2 linked regions of the Homo sapiens genome follow. The protein of the gene in region 1 purifies or fractionates together with the protein of each later gene. This does not show direct contact. Each region holds a gene or a part of one and is shown on either strand. Other genes may lie near its edges. The genes, in order: SPRR2D and SFMBT1.

Region 1 (3,566 bases):
TGATGGGCTTTTGGGTTGATTCTATGCCTTTGCTATAGTGAACACGGCTGCGATAAATATACACATGCATGTGTCTTTATGGTAGAATGATTTATATTCCTTTGGGTATATACCCAATAGTGAGACTGCTGGGTCAAATAATAGTTCTGTTTTAATGATGATGTACTGCTGCTAATAGACTACTATCAAATGAGTAGTAATGATATGTCAGAAATTGTGTCAACTGAATTCCTGATATTAATTCCATTTTATGCCTAAGATAAGTTAGTGATATAAATATTATTTTCCACATTTTAAAATGAAGAGATTAAAATTCTGATTGATTTGTTCTTCAAATCAATCAAACACTAATTAAGGAAAATAAAAGGGGTTTAAAATGATATAAAAATAATCATTGTTATGGCCCAAAATTCAGATAACAATAATTGTGAAATCCTGGTCCTGGGGATCAGAGAAAGGTAGAACAAAATCCAAATAATCATATAATATTACTAATAAAGCAGATTCTAAAAGAAACAAAAGATCCATTCACAAATATATATGCATAGATACTTTATTCAGGGAGTGAAAGATAAATGACAATTGCAAAGGTGGTAGAAGCTCATGACCAGGTGACAGACAGACACAGAACACATCAACAGAATTGTCTGATGGTTCCCAGGGAGAGAGCTGCTGCTCTTTCTTCCGAAGCTCTGGGAGCTGGCACAGCTGAGGACTTCCTTTTCTTAGCTCCACCTGGACAGTGGCAGTATGGCAGCCTCAGAAAGGGAATCTTTTGCTGTCACAGATCATCACAGGCAGGCCACAGGTTAAGGAGAAAGAAGCTCCCTGTGCATCCATGGAAGGCTTTGGTGAGAAGATGCAAGTGGAGCTGTGGAACGAGGTGAGCCAATTATCCTTATCCTCTCATGCTCCTGATGAATCCTGAAGCTGTTACTTGCTCTTGGGTGGACACTTTGGCTGGCAGGGTGGGGAAGGTGTCACAGGAGGATATTTCTGCTGGCACTGCTGAGGTGGGCAGGGCTGTGGACACTTTGGTGATGGGCAGGGCTCAGGGCACTTCGGGGGTGGACATGGCTCTGGGCACTTTGGCGTGGGGCACACAGGAGGTGGCTGGCAGGGCTGCTTGCACTGCTGCTGTTGATAAGACATCCTGCTGGAGTCTCAGGATCTGAAAGAAATGATACAACAGTGTTTGTGGGAAGGGACTCCTCCAGAGAGAGAAGCTAATGCTTATGTAATACCATGAAATATTATTTCCCCATCTCCAAGAAATTATTTAAACTCTTAACTGCCTTTTCAAGACTACTTCGTTTCTCCCTTCCACTTTAGCAAATTGCTTCATTGGCCCTGGGAAATCTTGTGTTTTCTCATACAATTTTTCCAAAGAAAATATCTCTGTAGTAATGAACCAAGCATGTTATTTCTGTGAAAATAACATCTTTAGGAAAGGCAGTGACAAGTTCAGATACCATGAGCAATCTCACAAGCCATTTCTCTTATCATTATCTGTAGTAAAGTCCCAGTGGGTTGACTTGAGCACAGAACAAAGGGCTGTTTGGGAAGGATTGCAGGCTCTTGGCACCTGTTAAGACACAAACCTTTGAAAAAGACACCAGGAAAACATGGGGAAAAAATACTTTGTTCTTTTTTCTTCTTCAATTCAAAGCTTTCCTATTAACTTCTCTGTCCGTATGGACACCTAACTGTATACAAGAAACAAGCTAAAATAGCATATCACTGTACTCTAAATCTAAATTTCCATCTACTAAGTAGAATCAAACCCATGGTTACAGAATTGTATCAACCAAACTTGCTGTTTTCAGATTAAATTCAATATTTCAGGTCACAAAGAACTGAGGAACTCAAGGACTCACACTCACCAGGTTCTCCAAAGCAGATCGGTGCTAGAGTACCAGGAGTTTAAGAGTTGTGCAGCAGGGAACCTCTTTATAGGACGTTCTGCCCCACCCAGTGGGAAGTGGAACTGCCTAAAACTGGGCTGGTCCAGCAATGTCCAAAGTAAAATGCAAATGTATCCATATCTGGCATGAGAGGCATTCTCAAACTAGGAAATATCCTGTTCTGGGATCTCCCCACTGGGTTAAGTGCTCATGAGTCACAGAGAACCTGCCTTAGATCTCAGTTTCAGTGACTTTCGTCAGAGAGATAATTGGAGGGATTCTCTAACCGGTTGTCAAGGGCTCTCTTTCTTGATTGGGAACAATGATCCCTTCCTATCTTACCTCCCCTGAGTCATAAAACTTCCTGTCCTGATCCACTCTAGCTGAATGCCATATTGTTGTACATGAACCCAACTCTACCTCTACTTTCCTCATACAGTTGGCCAATGTGCTAGAAGGAAGGAGAGACTTAACAAAGGCCTGAGCTAAGCTTTTTCTTTGCTAAGTTCCATGACAACAGGCATGTCACCTCTCCTCCCTGGGATTATAAACAGGGGACAATAATACTTACCTCTGGGTTTGCAGGCTGACCACATTGTGCTATCTGCTGACCCTGTTCAAGACTGAAATTTTCTTTGCCACCTTTTTCTCAGATAAAACCTCAGATTTTTACCTATATTCCTTTCCTCTTTGAAGCTGTCTTCTGCACCACATTTGTAGCTTCTGCACCACATTCGTAGAGGCACTTGCATCCCAGGACAGATTTGAGAGTGAGATCTAGTCTCCACAGCACGTTTGCTACTTGGTGCCATCAAGGATGTGTACTACAGCCTTTTTATTTATAAAAAGTAATGGAGAGAAGGAAACTAAAGTTACAAGTATTGACTCAAAATCTATGTATGGAACCATGCATATATGGTTCCCTGTGAACATCCTATAGAGAACAAGCTGCATAGACATTATCATATGTAAATAATTAGAAGTAGGTGTGCAGAGTGAGGAAGGTAAGAGCACTTAAAGTTTAACTCAAGGGGAAAATACAAACAAAGGGTAATCCAATATGTATTCTTCCTCTCTATTTCCAAACAGGTTTTAGATGTTTCTCAGTGTTTTTTAATTTGTTTGCATGTTCTTCCTTTGTCTTTTCCATAAACCTTCTAGTCCCACAAACTGCTAGATTATCAACTCATACCCAATGTATACCTGTCATCTGTCCATTTTGGTACATATTGTTCACTTAACACATATGTTGTCAATGCATTTAGTGATTGTCCTTTCACAACTTTTTTAAATGCTTCCTACAATCAGTGAGCCTTTCTAAGTACTGTATATTAAACATTTAAAGTGATGTTGCTACTGCTTCCTTATCTGGACCATTAATCGGGAAGCTTCCCAAGAACATGGTTTTATAAGTGAATAAGAAGAAAGGAGAATGAGGAAGAGGAAAGACTCAAAATCACTGGAGCAGTCACCAACTGTGCTCCAGGAAGGGCAGAGTGTTGAATCAAGCCAGCATCACATCCCTCAGTTAAGTAGGTTAGGTTCCCAGAACAGCTGTTGCTCCTGTCAGTAAGGAAGAGCTTTTAGCCAAGATCACCACTGGCCAGGACACTACAGAAATAGAGCCATCATGTCAGCACCCTGAGGCCAGGTGATTACAAA
Region 2 (3,825 bases), on another chromosome or scaffold:
CAAAATCATAAAGACAGAAAGTAGAACAGTGGTTGTCTAGGGTGGGAGGAGGGGAGTTGGGGAATCCCTGTTTCATGGGTACAGAGTTCCAGTCTGGGAAGATTAAAAAAGTTCTAGAGATGGATGGTGGTAATGGTTACACAACAATGTCAATGTACTTAATGCCACTGACCTGTACGTGTAAAAGTGGTTAAAATGGTACAATTCATGCTATATGTATATAACTTACCACAACCATACGTTTACAGAGTCTCTCTCTGTTGCCCAAGCTGGAGTGCAGTGATGTCATCTCAGCTCACTGCAACCCCCACCTCCTGGGTTCAAGCAATTCTCCTGCCTCAGCTTCCCAAGCAGCTGGGACTACAGGTGTCCGCCACCACACCTGGCTAATTTTGGTATACTTTTTTTTTATTTGATTTCATTTAAGTTCCAGGATACATGTGCAGGATGCGCAGGTTTGTTACATATAAACATTTTTAATAATAAAAATTTATATCCTCATTATATATCACTATGTTCTAGACAGGCAATATGCTAAGTGCATTGGTGTGATCACCATCTAACCACTCCAAGAGGGTTATTTTATGACGCAAGTCAAAATGAGACCAAAAGGTATCTTAAAGTTACAATTCAAAATTACCATATACTATTTTTAACACAGAAAAAGCATATTTTAGAAGAACCGATCCTTAAGAAAGAACACTAGAAAAAACTGAGAGACAGGAAAGCACTCTAGTCTGGGGAGCAAATTAATGTGAACAGAAATGAAGAACCAGTGGCAGCCCATGGGCAGCCTTACTACTGAGCAAATATTCCATAGTAGCCACCTCAAATGCTTTTTTAAAAACTCTTCAGGGTATAAAAAATAATAATTTGGAATTCAAATCTGAGTACTTGTTGGCTAACACTTTAAATTGAATATCAGCAAGAAAAACTCCTGAGGCATTTTAGTAATTGCTAAATTTCTCATCCCAGCTCATGTTGTCATTCCAAATGTGTGACTGTCCCACACTTTCAACTGCCAACAAACCACCTTCCAACTCTCATCTAAGATCCTCTCCAAATACCATCTCAGACAGAACCCAAGTTTCCCAGATAAACAGATACTGACACTTAACAACCCTATCTGCCCCACATCAGTTTAATAATTAACCTTTCTCTAGACTAAGCAAAAACATCAAAAAAGAACCAATGCACCAGACCAGTATGCCAGTTAAAAAAAAAAAAAAAGACCCAATGCACACAGTACTGTGCATCATGTTGGAAATATCACCTTATAGCCTCTCTCTGCATAGTGACATGCTTGGCTCACTGAAGTTACTCAACTGTTCAAACCACAGAGTTCAACAGGTACTTAACACATCATTTAACACACAATATACAGACTACTTTTTTTTTTGTTTTTATTTATTTTTTTGAGACAGGGTCTCGCTATGTCACCAGGCTGAAGGGGTGTGATCACAGCCCACTGCAACGTCTGTCTCCCTGGCTCAAGAGATATACCTGCCTCAGCCTCCCGAGTAGCTGAGACTACAGGCATGCACCAAGACACCTGAATTTTTTTTTTTTTTTTTTTTTTTTTTTTTTTTTTTGTAGAGACAGGGCTTCCCTATGTTGTCCAGGCTGGTATCAAACTCCTGGACTCCAGAGATCTGCCTGCCTTGGTCTCCCAAAATGCTGGGATTACAGGTGTAAGTCACTGCGCCCGGCCTATTTTTTGTTTTTAAATAAATTCCTTGAGTGACTGCCTGAAGACAAAAGAGAACTAAATAAGGTTATAAACATCCTCTTGAATAAAAGAAAGAATAATTACATACACGTTTTCAGGTGTCTCTGAGTTAGAGGAAAAGGTTTACAATCAAATCATTAAGACTTATGCAGTGAAGTCATATGATTTTTCTATTAATAATGTGTCAGTGTTCTTATCCTTCCTCCCCCTTTTGAAAAGTTTAAACATGAATCTGCAACAACCTGACCACATTCTTTCTATTTTAAATCATTTTCCGCGAGGCGCGGGGGCTCATGCCTGTAATCCCAGCACTTTGGGAGGCCAAGGAGGGTGGATCACCTGAGATCAGGAGTTCAAGACTAGCCTGACCAACATGGTGAAACCCCATCTTTACTAAAAATACCAAAATTAGCCAGGAATGGTGGTGCATGCCCATAATCCCAGCTACTTGGGAGGCTGAGGCAGGAGAATTGCTTGAACCCAGGAGGCAGAGGTTGCAGTGAGCCATGATCGTGCCATTGCACTCCAGCCTGGGCAACAAGAGTAAAAGTCTGTCTCAAAAAAAAAAAAAAAAAAAAAAAAAAAAAAAAATTCTTTTCCAATGAGGTTAGTATCCCCTGAAGAATGGGAGACTCCTATCAAAATCCCACTCCCCAAACTCTAATGGTTTAAAATCTCGCAAGTAACCAAAATCCCCACACACTTTTATCCCATTTAATAACTATGTATATACAGAAATATTATTTTCAAATACAAAATATCCCAGTTAGGTAACGAATGCTATATACTAAAAGAAAAATACTCTGCCATAAGGAAGTTGTATCATTTACTCATTACAAGTTCTTTTATTTTATGTTATTCCAAAATATTGGTTATAAGCCAAATAATCCAAGAAAGCAAAATTTTGGAAAATTATAAGAGAAAAAATGTAACATTAAAAATATTAAAGATGTAAAATGTCTGCCTAAATAATGGCCTTTTGGTTTTTGGACTGTATCTATTTACTTAATGTGAACATAACATGACGCCAAAATAAAAAGCCAATGAAGTTTGTATAGTTCATCTTTTCTACAGACTTTAGAGTTAAATGATACCTGCTGCTACACCACCATTCCACAGCTAAACCCAGTCTAGGTATCACTGTGAAAGCAAAAGTATACTACAGAAGCAGGAAGATTATGGATAGGCAAATCATACTGGGTTGGTTGGTTTGTTTTTTGAGACAGTGTCACTCTGTTACCCAGGCTGGAGTGCAGCAGTGCAATCATAGCTCACTGCAGCCTCGAACTCCTGGGCTCAAAGGATCCTCCCACCTCAGCCTCCTGAAGAGCTGGGACTATAGGTGCCCACCACCGCGCCTGGCTAATTTTTTTATTTTTTTGGAGACACAGGGTCTCCCTTTTCTTTCATCCAGGCTGGCCTCGAACTCCTGGTCTCAAGCGATCCTCTTGCCTAGCCTCCCAAAGTGCTGGGATTATAGGCGTGAGCCACTGTGCCTAGCCAGCAATCATTTTTAAAAGGAAAAATCTGAGTTTACAACAAAACAGCAAAAAAAGGAAATTCCCTTTCATTGTGTATTTTGTTTCTCGTGTATCTCTTTAGTTGCTTCTCTTAAAAATGTAATAGATTTTAAATTAAACAATCTGATCACATAAAAGTCAAGAAATTTAAAAAGAGCCACAAAAAGAAACAATGTATCAATAATAGCTAAGTCATCAATTACTCTCTTGGCTAATGAGGCTGTGAATCTTGGGTGGAGTGACCAAATCCAGCTTAGTTGCTGGTCAGTCAGTTGGCTGGCTAGCTTAACACGGGAAAGACAGAATTATTCAGCGAAATCATTTCACAAAAGAAAACCTTTTAACTTTGTGGACTATTCCCCATGGATCCCTACACCACAGGCCTTAGAACATTCCCAACTTTTATCACACAGATATCTTTGCAGTAAAAAACACAAGCCTTTGTTAGGAACTAACAAAATAAGAATTCACTTACAACATCTAACCCATCTCCTTTACAGTAGGAACAAGAAAAGGCACAAGACGACATTGGTGAAGGAAATGCAAATTGTTGCAGCATTTGCTTCAGTGGAGAAT

The links.
Region 2: the proteins of SPRR2D (region 1) and SFMBT1 purify together in Homo sapiens (affinity purification with mass spectrometry; one large-scale study listed by BioGRID and IntAct). This does not show direct contact.

Annotation. Positions count from the first base shown.
Region 1 is NC_000001.11:153,039,195-153,042,760, forward strand, and holds SPRR2D (small proline-rich protein 2D), read right to left. Parts: upstream 1,927-3,566; 5' UTR 1,884-1,926; exon of another isoform or gene 1,878-1,883; intron 1,172-1,877; 5' UTR 1,153-1,171; coding exon 934-1,152; 3' UTR 538-933; downstream 1-537. UniProt on the Homo sapiens protein: Cross-linked envelope protein of keratinocytes. It is a keratinocyte protein that first appears in the cell cytosol, but ultimately becomes cross-linked to membrane proteins by transglutaminase.
Region 2 is NC_000003.12:53,039,412-53,043,236, forward strand, and holds part of SFMBT1 (scm-like with four MBT domains protein 1), read right to left. Parts: intron 1-3,825. UniProt on the Homo sapiens protein: Histone-binding protein, which is part of various corepressor complexes. Mediates the recruitment of corepressor complexes to target genes, followed by chromatin compaction and repression of transcription.